2 separate regions of the Homo sapiens genome follow, and region 1 is linked to region 2. Evidence: fine-mapped expression QTL. A gene starts in region 2. The other region holds a variant in brackets. All regions are shown on one strand. Distances are between the middles of the regions.

Evidence for each region. PIP is the estimated chance that this variant, and not a neighbour inherited with it, causes the effect.
Region 1: its variant is fine-mapped to the expression of SNX17 in whole blood (INTERVAL, PIP above 0.99).

The regions. Positions count from the first base shown.
Region 1 is chr2:27,242,042-27,252,315 of GRCh38, forward strand. It overlaps CAD (carbamoyl-phosphate synthetase 2, aspartate transcarbamylase, and dihydroorotase), which reads left to right. Exons shown (of 44, transcript NM_004341.5): 39 at 1-82; 40 at 261-386; 41 at 579-734; 42 at 831-932; 43 at 1,157-1,251; 44 at 1,375-1,902. The coding sequence ends at 1,477. Among named protein-coding and RNA genes, the nearest start is that of SLC30A3, 16 kb to the right of the region's middle. RefSeq lists enhancers at 596-1,795, 7,417-8,211, 8,212-9,005 and a silencer at 7,841-8,021. The variant A/G (reference allele first, on the strand shown) is at 4,800.
Region 2 is chr2:27,364,931-27,375,140 of GRCh38, forward strand. SNX17 (sorting nexin 17) reads left to right here and starts at 5,686. Exons shown (of 15, transcript NM_014748.4): 1 at 5,686-5,876; 2 at 6,339-6,413; 3 at 7,693-7,810; 4 at 8,317-8,381; 5 at 8,931-9,041; 6 at 9,155-9,245; 7 at 9,416-9,503; 8 at 9,759-9,828; 9 at 10,131-10,210. The coding sequence starts at 5,814. It overlaps EIF2B4 (eukaryotic translation initiation factor 2B subunit delta), which reads right to left and starts at 5,408. Exons shown (of 13, transcript NM_001034116.2): 1 at 5,354-5,408; 2 at 4,946-4,989; 3 at 4,484-4,619; 4 at 4,076-4,282; 5 at 3,724-3,803; 6 at 3,442-3,533; 7 at 3,095-3,209; 8 at 2,816-2,892; 9 at 2,527-2,629; 10 at 2,144-2,271; 11 at 1,829-2,006. The coding sequence starts at 5,384. It overlaps GTF3C2-AS2 (GTF3C2 antisense RNA 2), which reads left to right. Exons shown (of 4, transcript NR_183827.1): 4 at 2,494-2,950. RefSeq lists enhancers at 4,654-5,615, 5,089-5,368, 5,589-5,678, 5,616-6,577, 5,699-5,758 and 1 more.

The DNA of each region.
Region 1 (10,274 bases), 120 kb before region 2:
ATCCCTGGCTGACTCCGTGCAGACCATGAGCTGCTATGCCGACGTCGTCGTGCTCCGGCACCCCCAGCCTGGAGCAGTGGAGGTGAGGCCAGCCTGGGTACTGAGATGGGGTTAAGAAGGCTGGACCCAGGGGCATGAGAACCCTTCTGCCCACGTTTTCTGTGTTTTGGGCCAGATGAGTGAGGGGACCCCAGAAGAGGGGGACTGGCAGTTGGGGGGCCTCTGAGCTGCAAAAGACAGGATTTTCCCCTTTTTTCCAGCTGGCCGCCAAGCACTGCCGGAGGCCAGTGATCAATGCTGGGGATGGGGTCGGAGAGCACCCCACCCAGGCCCTGCTGGACATCTTCACCATCCGTGAGGAGCTGGGAACTGTCAATGGCATGACGGTGAGGGTGGTGGCAGGGTTTGGATCCCTGCCAGGGGACGATCTAGAGAGGGAGGCAGGAAGTGGTTACCCCGGTACAGGACAGCTGCATCAAGGAGGCCTTCATTCTGCTCCAGAGGCTTTTAAAAGCTTGGAAATGATGTCGGGGGGCACTCAGTCTGGGATCCCTGTGGTGACTGGATTCCTCTCCTAGATCACGATGGTGGGTGACCTGAAGCACGGACGCACAGTACATTCCCTGGCCTGCCTGCTCACCCAGTATCGTGTCAGCCTGCGCTACGTGGCACCTCCCAGCCTGCGCATGCCACCCACTGTGCGGGCCTTCGTGGCCTCCCGCGGCACCAAGCAGGTGAGACCCTCACAGCCCTGCCTGGAAGCCATGGAGATGTGGGTTGGGCAGTCAGAGCCCAGCGCTGCATCCACCATGGCTCTCCTCACCCTCCAGGAGGAATTCGAGAGCATTGAGGAGGCGCTGCCTGACACTGATGTGCTCTACATGACTCGAATCCAGAAGGAACGATTTGGCTCTACCCAGGAGTACGAAGCTGTGAGTGCTGGGCTTGAGGAAGAAGCCAGGGCTGCTGCCGTAGGGCATCAGATATGAGGACAGAAAGGCTGGGCTGAGGGCTGGGTCAGAGCTGTTAAACTTCACATCTGTCAATTGCCATAGCTGCATGTGGGTGTGGAGGGGACCCCAGTGGAGCCCAGACTTGTGTCCTCTGTAGCCACTCCTACCCCAAGGCACTAATGGGGACCCCATCTGCTTTGCAGTGCTTTGGTCAGTTCATCCTCACTCCCCACATCATGACCCGGGCCAAGAAGAAGATGGTGGTGATGCACCCGATGCCCCGTGTCAACGAGATAAGGTGGTGCAGCATCAGAGTCAGAGACTGCCTCGGGGCTGGTGGACGGGAGGAGACTTAGTCCTGGACAAGCCATCCATGGGCTGCACGATAACACTTCCTTTTTTTTTTTTTTTTTTTTTGCAGCGTGGAAGTGGACTCGGATCCCCGCGCAGCCTACTTCCGCCAGGCTGAGAACGGCATGTACATCCGCATGGCTCTGTTAGCCACCGTGCTGGGCCGTTTCTAGGGCCTGGCTTCCTCAGCCTCTTCTCTTTAGGCCCAGCTGCTGGGCAAGGAATTCCAGTGCCTCCTACGGGGGCAGCACACTTAGATATTCCTGGACATCCAGATAGCTCACATGTGCTGACCACACTTCAGGCTCTGGACTGGAGCTCTCTGGCATGGGGGTGGGGCCTCAGATGCTGGGGCCCAGTCTGCCCCATCTTCATTCCTGCACCTTAAACCTGTACAGTCATTTTTCTACTGACTTAATAAACAGCCGAGCTGTCCCTTGATGCTGAGTGTAGTAGAACAGAGCTTTCTTTTAGAAAATTGAGCAGATTCCCAAATTATAAGAGCAGCCTCACCAGGCAGGGCTCTGGCTAGGGCTGCGTGCCCACACTCGGCATTTTCACACTCGTGACTCTTTGGGACTCGGCAGGAGCGTGTTAACTCTGTGCTCTCTGAGTCCTGTGTCGTGCTGATGCCAGCGCTTACCTGGGGGCTCTGGCTGGTGTCCAGCCCTCCTTCCTCAATTCAGTTGACTCAAAGACCTGACAGAGAGTTCTGCCCTCTTCCTGACACTGGGAGAACACTCATCAGGGTAAAAGGAAGGCTGAGCACTGCGGCCTGTCTGAGGCCAGGCCTGGACTCTTCCTCACTCTTTCTGGTTAGTCCTCCTCCAGTGGCTAAGGCTGCCATTGCATTCTCAAAACCACCCTGGAGTTCTTCAGCCACTGTCACTATTAGGAGCCCCTCCTATTTCCCATCCCTGGGAGCCTCTGCCTGACATTGGACAGAGGGGCAGATGCCATGGAGGGCTGAGGAGCACTTTGGCTTGGAGACCCCAGGGCAGCAGCCTAAGGGCAGTAGCTTATGTGTCTGTGGGTGAGGGCTTCTGAGGAGCAGCTGTGCCCTCCAGTGAACTTGAGTAGCATTGGAGAAATCTCATTTCTTGTTCCAACAAAACTTAGCACTCTGTGGGTACAAAGCACCATGTGCAGTGGGAGTACAAGGAAGAACAAGGCAATTCTCACCCTCAGTTTTCAGCCTCGGGTCATAAGGCTTCCAGTGGCTTCTACAGATTAAACTGCTGCACACTGGCACATGATAGTGCAAACTGCTCTGACACCATTCAGGAATCACCTACTTCATCCAGAGAGTAACAGCGTATTCTAGAGATGAGAAAAGGAGAAGGACCTCGTTTTTTGAGAACTTAGTGTGAACAGGAACTTGATGCGTATTCTCATTTCTCACACCAGCCTTCCACCCATTTCACAGATGTGGACACTGGCTCAGAGAAGTGGTGGGGGCCGGTGGCTCACCCCTGTAATCTCAGCATTTTGGGAGGCTGAGGCAGGCGGATCACCTGAGGTCAGGAGTTTGAGACCAGCCTGGCCAACATGGTGAAACCCTGTCGACTAAAAATATAAAAATCAGCTGTGTTTGGTGGTGTGCGCCTGTAATCCCAGCTACTTGGGAGGCTGAGGCAGGAGAATCGCTTGAACCCAGGAGGTGGAGGTTGCAGTGAGGCAAGATGGCACCATTACACTCCAGCCTGGGCAACAGTGACACTCTTATCTCCAAAAAAAAAAAAAAAGGTGGTAGCTTGCTGGGCCACTCACCTTGAGACTCATACGCAGGACTTCTTGACTTAACAACCCACCTTTCTGTTAAAAGGAAAGGTCATTTCTGGCTTTAAGGGCATCCAAAAACCAGTGGGAAAGACAAGCCACAAATCTAAGCAGTCCTGTAGGGAACCAGTTTCCAGAAGAGGTCAGCACAGATACGGAGTCGGAGAACCCTGTGCCGTGGGGTGTGAGCTGTGTCGTGAGGAAGGACGAAGAGTCTCCTTTACAGTACAGTTCGAGAGGAATGGAAATTGTGTCTGCGGTACAGTGAGGAGACACTGAACGCAGCAGGAGATTCCTACTGAGTATTGTGAGGGTTGAGAGTCTGACGGACCAGAACAGGGGGCTTGGATGTCAATTCCAACAAAAATATTAATTTACAACCACAGGTACTATTTGAAGGAGGGTATTAAGTATAATGCTAAGTCCTAGAGTGTGGAGGCCTCCAGTCCTGCTAATGTTAACCCTTTCCAGTCTTTCCAAACCCAGATTCCTGCCTGACAAGGTCTCCCTCAGGTACCTGGAGGACTTTATTGGTTGGAAAATAGAGTACCATTTCCAGAACTCTTCTTTTTCTTTCTAGAGACTCCATTTCCTTGCTTAAACTCTTAGAACAAGTCAGAGATTATTTTCCCAATTGTACTCATGAGTACTTGGGACTCGCACACAGATTCCCACAGAACTTGGATAGCCTCACCCTCAAGTAGAAGCAGTGTTTTCTGCCAAGTAGCGGACGCATTTTACTTAGTTGCTAAGTGGTGGGAGATGTTCCTGTCCTGAGCCTTTCTTTGGCTCTCCTAATCATAGCTCAGCTCTGAGTTGAATAAAGTTTTTTCCCGTATGACCAGAAAGTAAATCTCATTATATTGGGAAACAAAATGAAAAAACTTACCAGCAAAAACCAAAATTAGCCCTTTATTTTTTAAAATTTTTATCGTTTTGAGATGGCATCTCGCTCTGTTGCCCAGGCTGGAGTGCAGTGGTGCAATCTTGGCTCACTGCAACCTCCGCCTCCCAGGTTCAAGTGATTCTCCTGCCTCAGTCTCCCGAGTAACTGGGACTACAGACATGTGCTACCACACCCAGCTAACTTTTTGTATTTTTAGTAGAGATGGGGTTTTGCCATGTTGGCTAGGCTGGTGTTGAACTCCTGACTTCAAGTGATCTGCCCGCCTCAGCCTCCCAAAGTGCTAGGATTACAGGCATGAGCCACCGCACCCAGCCAAAATTAGCCCTTTAATACAATACCTTTGGGCCTGTTCCACATCCACTGAGAAACAACTTCATATCTGCCATGTAATTGTCATGAAGCATAAAAAGTTAGTTTGCTTCCTGAGGTACTTAAGAGGTTTGATCTATTTCTTCTATAAGAAACATTTATATGCCAAGCACTGTTCTAAGCGCTTTACAGATACATCCCTTTGACACTTGGATGAATCCTTTGACTATCCCCCACCTTGAAAGAAGTGTGGCTAACGTTGGGTTGCTATTACAGCCATTTTCTCCCACCTCTTCACTGTCCACCCTAGTGAAGGAGACATCCCCCTCAACATAGGTAGTCCACCGGGAGCTTTGTCAGCTGCACTCTAGTCCTGGCCCTTACAACTAACTACCTGCAACCATGGCAAGTCAGTATGCCTGTGGGCTTTTATTTTTTATACTAAAATTTTGTTTTTGAGACAGGGTCTCATTCTGTCACCCAGGCTGGAGTGCAGTGGC[A/G]CGATCTCAGCTCACTGCAGCCTTGACCTCATGGGCTCAAGTGATCCTCCCACTTAAGCCTCCCAAGGAGGTGGGACCACCATGGCCATACCACCATGCCCGGCTAATTTTTTGTGTTTTTTTTGTAGAGATGGGGTTTTGCCATGTCGTCCAGGCTGGTCTCAAACTCCTGGAGTCAAGTTATCCTCCCCACTCAGCCTCCAGAATAGCTGGGACCACAGGCACATGCCACCACACCTGGCTAATTTTTGTTCTTGTTTTGTTTTATAGAGATGGGGATTCGCCATGTTGCCCAGGCTGGCCTATTACTTTTTTTTTTTTTTTTTTTTTTTTTGAGACGGAGTCTTGCTCTGTTGCCCAGGCTGGAGTGCAGTGGCGCGATCTTGGCTCACCGCAAGCTCCGCCTCCCGGGTTCACGCCATTCTCCTGCCTCAGCCTCTCCGAGTAGCTGGGACTACAGGCACCTGCCACCACGCCCGGCTAATTTTTTGTATTTTTAGTAGAGATGGGGTTTCACCGTGGTCTCGATCTCCTGACCTCGTGATCCGCCCGCCTCAGCCTCCCAAAGTGCTGGGATTACAAGCATGAGCCACCGCGCCCGGCCAGGCTGGTCTATTCCTGGGCTCAAGTGATCCTCCTGCATCAGCCTCCTAAAGTGCTGGGATTACAGCCATGAGCCACCATGCCCAACCCACCTATAGGCTTTAAAAGGGTAGTTGGCAATTCCCAGTGTAAAATTGCAAAGTGTCTGTAGTTCTGCAGTAATATCCCCTGGGACAATGAGGGGGCATTGGCTGGTGGAGGTGAGGAGCAGAGAATGAGGGCCAGGATGGGATGAGTGCTTAATGGAAGACTCGTCTGGCAACAGTGCCTAGAAGAGAGAAAGGAGCCATTTCACCATCAGGACGCCAATTAGGAAGTTGTTGCAGTAAATACAGATCATGGGTGAAGAGGTTCTAGATTCAGAGATAGGAATAGATGTTATAACACTGAGGAGAGAGGAGAGTGAAGAATGACTGCACAGTGTGGGACCTCAAGACTGGAAGAAAGAAGACTGATGAAGGTAGACCAGATAGCCAGTTTGGGGTAGGGGAGGGCTGATTCCATTTGGGCATGATACCTAGCTGCCGTGGGCCATCTATATGGAGATGTCATGGAGGTAATGGAGCTGGGGAGTTGGAGCAAGCACAATAGAGACAGGTGGCATTTATATGTGACAACACAAGTGCCATGAGAGCAGGGACTTTACTCACTGATGTATCCCAAACACCAGAACAGGGTTGAGCACATAGTAGGTGCTCAGTAAATGTGTTGACCGAAGCATCAACATAAAGGTAATTGAAGCTTTTAAAATATGCATATTTGTTCACCAAGAGAATAGCGGCAAGCCTCAATTTCAGCAAGGGCCGCAGGAGAACTCAGGAGAAAGCCCTCAAGAGGCCCAGAATTCCAAGTGTGTGAGGGACGGGAGACGTATTGGCAGATTCAAATCCTGTAGCAGGCCAAAGAGAAGGAAATTTGAGGCAAGGACCTTGTCACAATAGTTGTTAGGCTGATGCTTTGTGGTGGTAACCAGGTTTCACGAGGTTACTGAGGGACTGGTTTAGAAGCTGAGGTCATTTACCAAGTGGCAAGGAAAAAAATGGGTGTTGAGATTGGGAGCTCAAAGGCTTTAGAGAAGGTCAGGGAAGCTGTGATGAATCCGCAGGAGATTAATAGAGTCACAAGCAGGACTCAAGGGGAAGCTAAACACTGAATTTGTGGTGGGGCTGGGGGAAGCCATGTCCAGGGCAGGGGCGTAGAAGGGCTTGCACTCCCTGGAGGACCCAAGAAATAGAAATGAGCTGGCCGGGCGCGGTGGCTCACGCCTGTAATCCCAGCACTTTGGGAGGCCGAGACGGGCGGATCACGAGGTCAGGAGATCGAGACCATCCTGGCTAACACAGTGAAACCCCATCTCTACTAAAAATGCAAAAAAAATTAGCCGGGTGTGGTGGCAGGCACCTGTAGTCCCAGCTACTCGGGAGGCTGAGGCAGGAGAATGGTGTGAATCCGGGAGGCGGAGCTTGCAGTGAGCCAAGATCACGCCACTGCACGCCAGCCTGGGCGACAGAGCGAGACTCCATCTCAAAAAAAAAAAAAAAAGAAAAGAAATAGAAGTGACTGCCTGCTTGAGAGCACCTGAATTGCTACCATCAAATGCTACCATCAGATACAGATTTATACCTCGGGAATCAGCATGTATGAAACCTGCTTGTTGGCCCATTGGTAGGAGCTGGGGATTAGAAGATATTTTATGGACTTTGCATTGGCCTGACATTTATCTGTTCACCATCCTTCCACCCATTCCTTCCATCACCAGCAGTCATACTGAGCATGTACTTGGTGTCTGGCTGTGAGCTAAGTGCTGGGGGAGCATGCCTTCCTTCAAGGAGTGTGCCGTCAGTAGGCCACTCACCGTTTTACTGTGTCTCCCAGCAGTCCTGTGTGACCACGTCCTGGTCCAGCAGGATGGGGGAAAGCAGGGAGGCCATGCTTGGGCAGACTCCGTGGTCAGGAAAAAGCAAGTTTGTTGTTGTAGGGTCTGAACCCTGCTTATTTTGGTAAGCTTTCTTATCTTTTTAATATTCTGGGTTCAGTTCCCTTCTATTTCTCCCCAGGCTTTTGGCTACAGTCCTTTAAAAATTTATAGCCATCGTTGTTGAGCCAAAGCAAACAAAAGAATGGAATCGGAGGTTAAGGCTGTTTGGGTCGTGTCCTCTGAGTGAGCTTCTCCAGGTCTGGGCTTCTTCCTGTCCCCAGGATGCTGTAGCCAGAGAGCAGATGAGGGGGTCTGGGGTACCACACGGGGAATGGCAAGAGCAGAGAAAGGCTAGGACCAGGGCTGAAGGAGGGAGGCACAGGCTCTGGCAACCCGGGCCTTCCTGCCTACCCACTCTCCCCACGTTCTTTCTCTTGCCAGTTAAGGAAACGGGGCCTGCTTTGTGTATGGGATTGCTGGTGATCACAGCTGCATCTGGGGGTGTGGTGGTATACACGTGGAGTCCCAGCTGCTCAGGAAGCCGAGGCAGGAGGATTGCTTGAGCCCAGGAGTTTGAGGCTAGCCTGGGCAGCATAGCAAGACCCCATCTCAAAAAAGGAAAAAGCCCCCACACAGCTGCATCTGGGGCCTCAGGCTTTGCCCTGTTGGGGCCTGGGAACTGCCCCTCCAAGCACCCCTTGGAAGGTACTGACCAGGTACTGACGAGGTGTCCCTGGGACTTAAGCCAGGGACAGGGAGGCCCTGGGAACTGCCAGAGTTGGGGGAAGGGAGGTTGGAGAGTTAAGAAAGAGTACTCCAACTATAAAAGGAACACCCTGACTACAGTTCTCCACAGTGAGGGTCTCTGCCTGGCGGAGGGGAAAAGGGTCTTCCCGTCCTGACCCCAGTCCTGAGACTCCCTGCAAAGACTTCCGGCTGCCTCTGCCGCTGCGGTGGCGTATGCCCCAGTTGGGGGCGCTGCTCCCCAGCCAGCCGGGCTCTAGGAAGCGGGAGGGCCAAATGCCTCCTTTAAGCCGGCTGCACCGGGGCCCTGACCGGGCGGGAGGGCTGCTGGAGGGTGGTGCTTATCACCCGGGCTTCCTCTTGACCCTGCCGGCTGGGCCCTGGGCCTTGGCCTTCGCCTCTTAAACGTGGTGCAGGACTCACCCTGGGCCACCCCCAGGTGGGCAGCCTTGGGAGAAGGGCAGGACCTGCCCATGTGCCCATGCTCCTCCGCCCAGTCACTGCAGCACGAAGCCTCTCAGGTCCGCACCCTGCATTCTGGCCCTTTGATCTCCAGTTTCTCCTTTGAATAGCCCTGCAGCTCTCAGCAGGGAAACCCGGCCTGCCTCTCTCTCCCTCCACTCTCCATTTCACCCCTTTCCTGGCTGTCCCTCTTCTCTGGTTCCTCTCTGACCCGAAAGCCCACCCCTCCCCTAGTTAATCAGCTGTGTAAAGAGCTGGGGCTGGGCTGAGGGATGGGCCCTCCCCCACCTGCGTTGCTCTCCCCTGCCTTCCCCTCACCCCTCCCAGGCCCAGTCCCTTCCCCTCGACTCTCCCTCCTCCATCTATCATCAAGGAAGGGCACCCAGGGGAAAGGGACTTCTGGATAAGCGAGTGGAGAAGGAGGATAGGAGGATAATGGGGGAGTGCAGGCAGCTCTGCAGATAAGGATTTCCTGGGCTCCCGGGGATGGTGGCCCAGTGTGAAGGTGGGAGAATGCTCCAGAGACCTGTCTCCTCATCCTCCCGATGCCCGAAGGTGAGTGGAAAGGCAGGATGGCATAGAGAGAGGGCTGGGGACGTCCAGGGGCCAGAACTCAGAACCGAGTGGAACCAGCTGCACGACCATGGGCAGGTGAGCCTGCTTCTCCATCTGTCAGGTGCACAGGATACTGTCCGCACCACAGTGCCTTGCACAAAATAAGCTCAATGATTGCTGCTTCCTGTCCCTGCTGTCAGGGTGCCGGGCCACTCTCTTCTCCTGAAATCTCTCCCCTGCATCCTGGGTTCAACCCAAAAGCTAACTCTTATATACACCTTCTATATACCAGGCACATTCACACCCATGATATCACGTAATCACTATTTTATAATTGAGAAAGCTGAGACGCAGAGAGGTTAACTGTGACTAGAATAATAGTAAAGGCAGAGCAGAACCAGAGGGTCTGACCCCAGAGCCCCAGGACGGGAGTGCCAGCGGCAGCAGGCTGCTGGAAGGGCTGAGGAAAGATTTGCTGAGAAACTCAACTAGGCAAGAGCTTCAAAGGGGCCTGGAGTGGGAATGAGAGCCTGGGCATGTGCTGGCTGACCCTGGGGAAGTCTTTTTCCCTCCCTGAGTCTCCTCCTTCTATGGGCAGAAGATGGACTGGATGCTTGGTGAAGGCATTCACCTGCCCTGAGCATTCCCCTGCAAAGGGACCCAGCATCGCACAGATAGGACAGGCTGTGGCTTAAAGCATTTCATAGGGTGAAAATCGAGTCCTCCTGTTCCCCACCCTCCTTCCCTCTCCTCGATTTCCTCACTCTTCCCCACCCCCATCCTGTCACCTGGGGCCTATAATCAATGAGACGTAAAATGAGAAAGTATCAGGAACCAGCAAAGCATGGCGAGCAGCTGGGGCGGCCTTGCCGCCGGGCGTGATGGACTGCCAGCCCTTCGCTTCGCCAGCCTCCCACACCCTGACGTGGGCAGTGGCGTCTCACCCAGCCTGGGCTAAGGCTCCCAGCTGGACATCAGGGAGGGGGCTACCTCTGATGAGTCCAAAAGCCTCACCTTTAAAAAGGAATGAAATCTATGGTCTTGACATGGAAAGATGAGTCTAGGCTGCATGGTTGAGTCATAAACACAGGTAACACGATCTCACCTATAAGATGACCCCATTTTTGTTATTATGTAGAAATACTGACCCCATACTAGGATTAGCAGTTTTCTCGGAAAGTAAGATTACAGGG
Region 2 (10,210 bases):
TCATTGTTGTATCAATGCAAAATAAGGTCCCCTACTTACAGGACAGCAACATTAAGACAAGTAATAAATCTCAACACCTGTGAAAAGAAGGGAAAGAAACAAAAACAGACAACAAGTAATAAATCTTTTTTTTTTTTTTCTTTGAGATGAAGTTCTGCTCTTGTTGCCCAGGCTGGAGTGCAATGGCGCGATCTCGGCTCACCACAACCTCTGCCTCCTGGGTTCAAGTGATTCTCCTGCCTCAGCCTCCCGAGTAGCTGGGATTACAGGCATGCACCACCACTCCCAGCTGATTTGTTGTATTTTTATATTTTTAGTAGAGACGGGGTTTCTCCACGTTGGTCAGGCTGGTCTCGAACTCCCAACCTCAGGTGATCTGCCCGCCTCAGCCACCCAAAGTGCCAGGATAACAGGCGTGAGCCACTGAGTCCGGCAATTAATAAATCCTTTTTTTTTTTTTTTTTGAGATGGAGTCTCGCTCTGTCGCCCAGGCTGGAGTGCAGTGGCATGATCTCGGCTCACTGCAAGCTCTGCCTCCTGGGTTCACGCCATTCTCCTGACTCAGCCTCCAGATTAGCTGGGACTACAGGCGCCCACCACCACGCCCGGCTAATTTTTTGTATTTTTAGTAGAGACGGGGTTTCACTGTGTTAGCCAGGATGATTGTGAACTCCTGACCTCGTGAACTGCCCTCCTCGGCCTCCCAAAGTGCTGGAATTACAGGCTTGAGCCACTGTGCCCGGCCTAATAAATCTTAATGATGGCTTTTCTTCTGTGAAAACACCTGACCACTGACCCACCAAATCTCCCACAGGAAAAGTAAACTTTGAAGTTACTTTTGTCTTGTTCCCTCTTCCTGGTTGCTAGTTTAATGTAATGTTTTTGCAATAGCTAGACTGCTGTAATATACTGTCAGTGTTTTTCCAATTAAATAGAAACAGAGCTATATAATTATTTTTTTTGACACAGGGTTTCATTCTGTCACCCAGGCTGGAGTGCAGTGGTGCAATGACAGCTCACTGTAGCCTCAACCTCCTGGGCTCAAGCAGTCCTCTCACCTCAGCCTCCTAAGTAGCTGGAACTACATGCGCATGCCACCATGCCCGGGTGTGTGTGTGTGTGTGTGTGTTCAAGCAGTCCTCTCACCTCAGCCTCCTAAGTAGCTGTGTGTGTGTGTGTGTGTGTGCGTGCGCGCGCGCACGCACTCAAGCAGTCCTCTCACCTCAGCCTAAGTAGCTGGAACTACATGCGCATGCCACCATGCCCGGGGTGGGGGTGGGGTGGGGTGTGTGTGTGTGTGTGTGTGTGTGTGTGTGTGTGTGTGTGTGTGTACAGGGTCTCATTATGTTGAGCAGGCTGGTCTTGAACTCCTGGGCTCAAGTGATCCTCCTGCCTTAGTGCTGAGATTGCAGGCATTGAGCCATGGCACCAAGCCAGGGCTATATAATTCTAATATTTTTAAATAATTGTGGCTGGGCACAGTGGCTCATGCCTATGATCCCAGTACTTTGGGAGGCCGAGACAGGGGGAACTGCTTGAGCCCAGGAGTTCCAGCCTGGGCAATGTAGCGATATCCCATCTCTACAAGAAAAATAAAAAACTAGCTGGGCATGGTGGCACACACCAGTAGTCCCAGCTACTCAGAGGCGGAGGTGGGAAGATCACCTGAGCCCAGGAGGTCAAGACTGCAGTGAGCTGTGATCACGTCGCTGCACTCCATCCTTATCTCAAAACAAAAACAAAACTGTAACTTTGGGAAGGTGAGATTATGTCTATACTACTACACCTTTTCACCGCCAACTTTGGAGTCCTTTTCCTCTGTACTTACCTCTGGGAGCACATAGGAGGCTGCAGGAATCAGCAGGTAGGAGGCTGGGACACCAGCATGGACTAGAGAACGTAGTGTGTGCCTTCCTTCCAGCCATGGCCGGCTGTCCACCACTACCACCCGAAACCGCCGGCCCTCTGTCCAAGCCTCCTGAAGAATTCGTGATACCAGAGATGAGCTAGAGTGAATGAAGAGGAGGATTCAGTTATAAATGTCAGTAACTGATGACTAACTTATTCCCAAAGGCAAGTGGGTAGTCCCTTCTTCAGATCATTCCAACTCCCAATCTGCTCAGTCACAAGGTCTGGACCATACCATCCATATACCAGGATCACATCTCCATTACTGATCTTCTGGTAAGCAAAGCGTGAAATTGCCTGAGCTGCTAGCACAATCTTCTCTTGCACATACCGATCAATGGCTGCTCGAAGTTCTGACTTGGCCTAAATGGAGTAAAATCCTTAGTGAACAAGAAATGGACACTTTTATCCCTCTGATGATCATGCCAGGTGCTTGAATATGTGTATGATGACAAGCCTATAGAGGGCTCAGAGATGGCACAAGTCAGAATGGCCAAACCATTCCTTAACCCTTGACTAGGGCAAAAAAAGGCTTACGTTGGCCTTCCCGGGAGTTTTTAACATGTTTCTTAATTTTACCCACAGGTGCATGCCTTCCTTATTTCTCATACTCATCACCTCCTCTTCCCGCTTGGAACTGCCCACACTGGTGATTTCCTTGTTAAGGAACTTGATGGCGTTGTGCATGCTCGCTGACAGGGGACGGCACTGAGTCAGGAAGCTATAATACAACAGCAATACCTTATATCTGCGCAACTCTTCACAACTTACAAAGCCTTCACATTTAAAAAAAAAGTCTTTAAAAAGAAAATAGAACACAAAATGAAAAGAGAGATAGAAAAGCAGGAAAAAGAGTACAAGACAAAGATTGGGCGAGCTGGGAGTGGACTTATAGTGTTGTCCCTACCTCATGTAGGGTTTTAGTTTATTCACTAGATCCCTGGAGAGTTCTTCATTAGGCGGTGTTGTGTAATCCTGAATCACCTATAGGGTACACAAGGTGATCTGCAAAATACCCCTTAATAAAGATCTCTGAACGGGGGCTGGGGGTAAGCTTCACTGAGGAAAATGTTCTGAGGGTAGGAGTATTCCCTCTGTCCCCCAGAGATGACCTTGGGTGACAGAAGCTGGGGTAGTATTGGGGGAGGTGGGGTTGGATCATAAGAGAGAACAGGATGGGACATACCTGCTGCAAGGCACGAAGCAGGGCAATACACCGGGCATTGGAGCCACTGACCAGGCCCTGGGAGTACTGCAGGCCGAGTCGCACCATGGCTGGGTGGATCACAGAGGATGGGATGCTGATGGGATGGCGGTGTCACATACTTTGAAAGGGAGCTTGAGCATCTACTGCCCACCTGCCCCTGATGAAAAGGAACTCCCTTCACTAGCAGATTTCCCCACTCCTCTACAGTTCTGCCTTGGGTTCATACTTTTTCCTACAGAGTCCATCTCAGATTACTAGAAACTTTCAATACTGACTTACTAAAACTCCTCAGACTCAAAAGTTATGACAATTTCATAGGATCCTACCTCATAAACTGGGTCAGAGAGTTTTGTCTGCTGTACTGGGGTAGGTGAGAGAAGAGACTGACTTTGGATCCATAATCCTTTCGTGTAGGAACCTTGACAAAACAAGGGAACAGGACCAATGGCCCAGAGTTTAAAAAGGATGGGATAAAGCTGGAAAGGAAGTGAACAGTAAGACTACTCTGACCCAAGCACCTATCCTTCTCACTTTGCACCCAGCACCTTTCCTCCCTCCAGTCCATTTCCCTAGGCTCTTTCTAGCCAGGCACCAAACCCACTTCCTACCTGTTGACGCTCTGGTTTTTTAACAAGCCTTCTCAGAAGTAGGTCATCAACCTGAGGGTACTCAGGGAGACGCTTCACTCCTGAAAGATAATCATCATGTTTTCAGGACACTGTAGGTCTTGAAATGTGTAATTTGCTCTTAGGGTATAAGGGGCATCAAGAAAAACAGGATGAGGTGGAGAAAACGGGAGAATAGGGTAGAAAAGGAAATAGGGATAGGATAATGGGGTTGCAGGAACAATTCAGAACTCTGGGTCCCAAGAATGAGAGGGGAGAGCTGTTTTACTATTGGGCAGCCTGAGCTGGCGTTATAATTAGGAGTAAGGGAGGTCTTAAAATGAAGGGAAGATACCTGAGGGGGTTTCTCCAGCTGTGCTGGGGCTGGCCTTAGGAGGTGGTCCTCCTTGTTCCCCTTTTCTTGCCTGTTTCAGGGCCCGCTCGGCCTCCTGCTTGGCTCGACGCTCAGCCCGAAGTTCGGCCTTACTCCGACCAGCTGGAACTTTCTCCCGAGGAGTGCCCAACTGAATGCCCGATTCTGGCAGTTCTCTGGTTGGGCCTACTAAAAGCATTAAAAAAAAAAATGCCCAAGCTGCAGGCAGGTGATATCCGTGCCCCAGCTAAAACTAGCTTCTCTCCTTGTAAACCTCTTTGCTTTACACACTTGCTCAAATCAACTTTGTCCTGTCTCTCCCTTATCTCTCCCACCACATCCCTCTACCAGCTCCACACCCCAGCCCTTTAAAAGAGACCCCTCACTCACCTTGACATTGGGCTGCAGATACAGCAGAGCCAGTCTCTGGTTCTGCCCCCTTTTCTTCCTTCCGTTTCTTCTTCTGCTGTTTCTTTTCCTTCCGAAGCTGCAGCTTTTCTTCTTTGGTCATTTCCCTCCCCACTGCCTGAGACACAGACATAGGATACTGCTCTTCCCCAACAATTCCAAAGGGGAACAAATACTATTGGATGCTTACAAGATTTCCACATGGTTAAATCCCTAGTTCTTCCTAACTTCCACAAGCTACCTGTTGCAAGCTTACATCCACAGAGGCTGACGTTTCTCCTCCAGGGACAGAATCATATATCCCTAGGGTTGCAAGACCTCTGTAAAATCTCCTGGCTTTACTGAGAAATAAACCGACACGGGATGGGAGCTGGGGCGGAATAAAGCTGGCACAGCCTCCTGCGTAGCGCTTGGCAGGCGGCTTGGGAGGGAAGCCTCACTTACCCCAGGCCCAGGGGGAAGCTCCGCCTTCATCCCGGATCCCGAGTCTGCATCAGAAAACAGGGCACAAAGTGAGCCAGAGAGACTCCGGGAGGGTTTGGGGGCACGAGTACTCGGCGCAGCCGGCTGCTGGGTTGGCATGACCACGGATCCGCCGGCAGGCGCGAGGCGAGCCAGGGATCCGCGTGGGGACGCACTGCGCGGCGGATCAAAGGAATGGAGGGGTCACCGACCCTCCTCACAGCAACCAGCCGGTGCGCGGCGCGGGACTGCGCTCGAGACTGTGTAGACCGGAGCCCAGCGTGGCGCTGGAACGGAGCGGCGGGGCCCAAAGGCGCTCAAGGCCCGGCACTAGCTGTCCGGAGCTCGTCGGCTCCGCGTACCAGTAGGCAGGCCCGGCTCTTCACTCACCCTCGCGAACAGCCACGGCCACAGCAGCCATCGCCCTCAGTCCTAGGCTCCGCCCGCCGTGGTCACGGAGCCGCCCCGCTGCCTCGCTCCGCGGCTGCAGGGTCCACAGCGCCACCTGGGCTGGAGGCTGAGCCGCAGAAGCGAAGCGCGCAGCCCCAATCGGACTACAATTTCCGACGGGCCCCGAGGCCCCGCCCCGCACTACGGGTTGCAATGAGGGCCAACTCCACTTTGGGCTCCCTATCCGGACAGGTGGCTCTTGCCCTTTAGACTACAGTTCCCAGCATGCCCAGGCGATTGCGTCCCAGAACCGACGTCCCACCGCCTTCCCACATCGGATCGCAGGGCTCCCAAAATGGCGAGTGAGGCTGCGGGGACTCGCTGAGCAGCGGAGGGGGAGCGTGCAGAGCCGCTGCGGCCCTCACAGTCCGGAGCCCGGCCGTGCCGTGCCGTAGGGAACATGCACTTTTCCATTCCCGAAACCGAGTCCCGCAGCGGGGACAGCGGCGGCTCCGCCTACGTGGTGAGGAGCGGCCGGAGCCGAGCCGGGCCGGGCAGGGGCGGGGATAACGGGCCCGAGCCATCTCGGAGCGGCCTCTGAGGCCTGACCGCCACCCTTCGGGCCTGGTCCTGGGCCGCCGACTCCCGACGGCCTCTCTGGGAGCTTATCTCATGTGTGTGATTCGTGCAGTGGTCGCCCGAGCTCCTGTAGGCCCTTAGGCCGGGTCGCTTCCCCGAGCTAGGCCGCAGCTGCCCTGGTGGGCGTCACTGGCCTCTTGGGCAGTGAGACTGCAACACAAGCGTCCGAATTTCCCCCGGACTGGCTCTTCAGCTTTGGGACTTGGCCCTGGCGAAAACAAGCGAACTATCCCTCGGGAGATTAGCGCGTTACTCCGGCGAGTTGCCAGGCAACTTCCGGCCAGGGTTCTCAGGGGGGTTGCGCAGACCGCAACCCTAAAATGCTTGACTACTTTTGTGTCCTCAGGCCTATAACATTCACGTGAATGGAGTCCTGCACTGTCGGGTGCGCTACAGCCAGCTCCTGGGGCTGCACGAGCAGGTGGGACTAGCACCCCTGCCTTGAGACAGCTTCAAGCCCTTCCCTACACGTGGACATCAGTGTCTCCCTTTACCCGCTCTTCTTGTTCCCGTAGGCTGTAGTTCCCCTTTAATCACTGCCACAGGGTAGGGCCCTGGTTTATCTTGTCTGACATTTCCGGGAACTCCCTAAGAAGCTTAATGTCCGCGCAACAACTGCTCCTTCCTGTTCTTATATTCTGGTTTTCTGTCCAGTCTTACTGCTCTAGTAGCCTTTACCCCTGCATGGACAAACCAACCCCTCCCCCCACTACCTCCACCCAGGCTGTCAAAGCACATTCCTTCTGTCATCTGAGCGGCAACTTGAAATTCTTTTCCCTGCTTATACAAACGATTCACCGATTTCCTTTTGTGTTCTTCGGCTCATTTCAGTGTGTTTAGCTGTGCCAATTATCGTTATGTATCTGTGATGCAATGTTTCTCCTCCTTCCTTACCAGATCTTAAACTCTATTTAACTCAGTAGAGCTCCACTGATAATTAGTTGTGCAACCCTGAACAAGTTACCTGATATCTTTTTTTGGGACGGAGTTTCTCTCTTGTTGCCCAGGCTGGAGTGCAGTGGCACGATCTCGGCTCACTGCAACCTCTGCCTCCTGGGTTCAAGCGATTCTCCTTCCTCAGCCTCCTGAGTAGCTGGGATTACAGGCGGCTGCCTCCACACCCAGCTAATTTTTGTATTTTTAGTAGAGAGGGGTTTCACTATGTTGGCCAGGCTGGTCTCAAACTCCTGACCTCAGGTGATCCACCCACCTTGCCTCCCAAAATGCTGAGATTACAGGCATGAGGCCTGTAGAAACTGATTTCTTTGGGCCTCAGTTTCTACAACTGAAAGATGGATTCTTTGATCTGCAAAGTCCCTTTAAGTCCTAAGATATTTTGTGAACAGACTTAGCTATTAACTGTGCACTTTATAAAGCCCTTTCCTTCCTTTAAGGGTTCAGTGAACAGTCTTGCTAGGTGGTCAAGGGGCTCCCTATAGGTCCTGGCCCAGTACAAATCCTCCCCGTACTGTGGAGGGGCTGACTTGTACACAGTAAAATAGAGCACAACTTATATCTAGGACAGCTCCCTTGAGGTGCTACCGCTGTCAAAGGAATTGTTTCTCAGATGACCAGGGTAGACAGGGGAACAGGGACTGAGGGAAGGGAGGGGCACCCAAGAGAACATTATGAGCATATGTAGATTGCCTCATCTCATTTTCTGTGTTTATGTGAAGGGTTGTATCTCTTTCTCTAAATAGCTTCGGAAGGAGTATGGGGCCAATGTGCTTCCTGCATTCCCCCCAAAGAAGCTTTTCTCTCTGACTCCTGCTGAGGTAGAACAGAGGAGAGAGCAGTTAGAGAAGTACATGCAAGCTGGTGAGTGGTTGCAGGAAACTAGGTTGACTATATTGAGGACTATGGGGAGAGACTTAAAAACAGCTGGTTCTGTGGAAGGGCCTGATTTAATTTCTAGATCTAGGAAGGCTCTTGTTTGATCTGTTATGCAGTTAGCAAAGTAAATAGTGTACGAGGATGTGTAACTCTGTGTACTAGCAAAACAATTTGGGCACTAACATCTATGAGAAATACTAGTATAACACTAGTCTTAATATCAGTGGAGAGAACTTAATTTGTATCTGATGTGCTTTAGATTAACATCATTGTTATTTCCCTAGTTCTATAGACTGGACTCACCTAGATGGCAGCCAAGGGTGGGGCAGGTGAAGAATTTATGCAAACAGTGAGTGAGGTGAGGCCAGCTGGGGGATGTGGCAGGCCACCATCAGCCCAGGAAATGGGGTCGGGGGAACCTACTGAGAGGAGGACTGGGGAGCCAAGAGTGAGTGCTAAGTTCCTGTAATAATGTTCTCTTGTCCTCGTAGTTCGGCAAGACCCATTGCTTGGGAGCAGCGAGACTTTCAACAGTTTCCTGCGTCGGGCACAACAGGTAGGGCTTTGGGTGGGACCAAGATTTAAGGAAAGGACCTTGCTGGAAGGTCATGTCTTTTATTTTTTTGAGACAGAGTCTTGCTCTTTTGCACAGGCTGGAGTGCAGTGGTGCGATCTCAGCTCACTGCAATCTCCGCCTCCCGGATTCAAGCGATTCTCCTGCCTCAGCCTCCCAAGTAGCTAGAATTACAGGCGCCTGCCACCATGTCCGGCTCATTTTTGTATTTTTAGTGGAGACGGGGTTTTGCCGTGTTGGCCTGGCTGGTCTCGAACTCCTGACCTCAGGTGATCCACCCGCCTTGGCCTCCCAAAGTGCTGGGATTACGGGTGTGAGCCACCACACCCAGCCAGGCCATGTCATCTTAATAACAGAGGAGTCATCTTTTTTAATGGAATGGAACTTCTATTCTTATGAAATCAAAGAAATCACAGCCTATATTTAAGCAGCTGAGAATAAAGACACACAAGGGACCTAGAAATAGAGTTGGGCATAGGTCAAGGCAAGGGACAAGGCAGTGCTTCCCATCCCCATGTGTGCTCACAACAGGAGACACAGCAGGTCCCCACAGAGGAAGTGTCCTTGGAAGTGCTGCTCAGCAACGGGCAGAAAGTTCTGGTCAACGTGCTAACTTCAGATCAGACTGAGGATGTCCTGGAGGTGAGGCGCTTGTTCAGCACTGCCCCTTCTTCCCCTACATCCTGGGGTCCTGGGCTTGGAGAATGATTGGAACCAGCCAGTATGATGAGCTGTACTTCTATCCCTATCCCCAGGCTGTAGCTGCAAAGCTGGATCTTCCAGATGACTTGATTGGATACTTTAGTCTATTCTTAGTTCGAGAAAAAGAGGATGGAGCCTTTTCTTGTGAGTTTCTCTGGACTTGACTGCAGTACAAGGGTACTTCAGTAGAGTTTGCAGCCCCCCTAACTCCCCACCCCCACCCCCAGAATGAACATTGCCTCAGGGCACTTCTTTCTTGATTTCCCTTCCTTTAAATCTCACTATATTTTCATTTTTTTTTTTTTAACCTGTAGTTGTACGGAAGTTGCAAGAGTTTGAGCTGCCTTATGTGTCTGTCACCAGCCTTCGGAGTCAAGAGTATAAGATTGTGCTAAGGAAGAGGTCAGGGCTGGGCCTGGAAGGGGAGGGGTGGGAGGTGCTGTGCTGGATTGGATTATTGGGCCACATATTGAGACAGAATAATCTGGACAAGGGGGTGTAGTGCTGGGTGTTTCTGCCAGGCCTCCCAAGCTTCCTCCCACTATACCATTAGCCCCTGATAGTTCCAGATTGCTCCTGTTTTGCCCATTTTCCATTCTACCTCTTGCCTTAACCCAGCTTAGCCCCATTACCCCTTTCCACCCCTTGGCCTCACAGTTATTGGGACTCTGCCTATGATGACGATGTCATGGAGAACCGGGTTGGCCTGAACCTGCTTTATGCTCAGGTGAGCTTGGAGCTGCCTCAGAACCCTTCCCCTGAAGAAAATAACGGGTGACTCACTCTCCCAAGAAAACTGCTGTCGTGTCTTTGTTCCCAATTTGTGGGGAAGTTCCTAGAATACTATCAGTGCTGCTGGCACAATATCTACTCTCCCTACTTTTATTAAGCTGACAAGATCAAGGACTTACTGCAGAGAGGTCGCTCAAGTGTGGGGCTAGGGGTCAGGCTGGACAGAGGTAATGGTAGACGCTTTCCTTGGATTGCTGACTGGGACCTCCTACTGCCTGCCCCTTGTCTCTACTATAGACGGTATCAGATATTGAGCGTGGGTGGATCTTGGTCACCAAGGAACAGCACCGGCAACTCAAATCTCTGCAAGAGAAAGT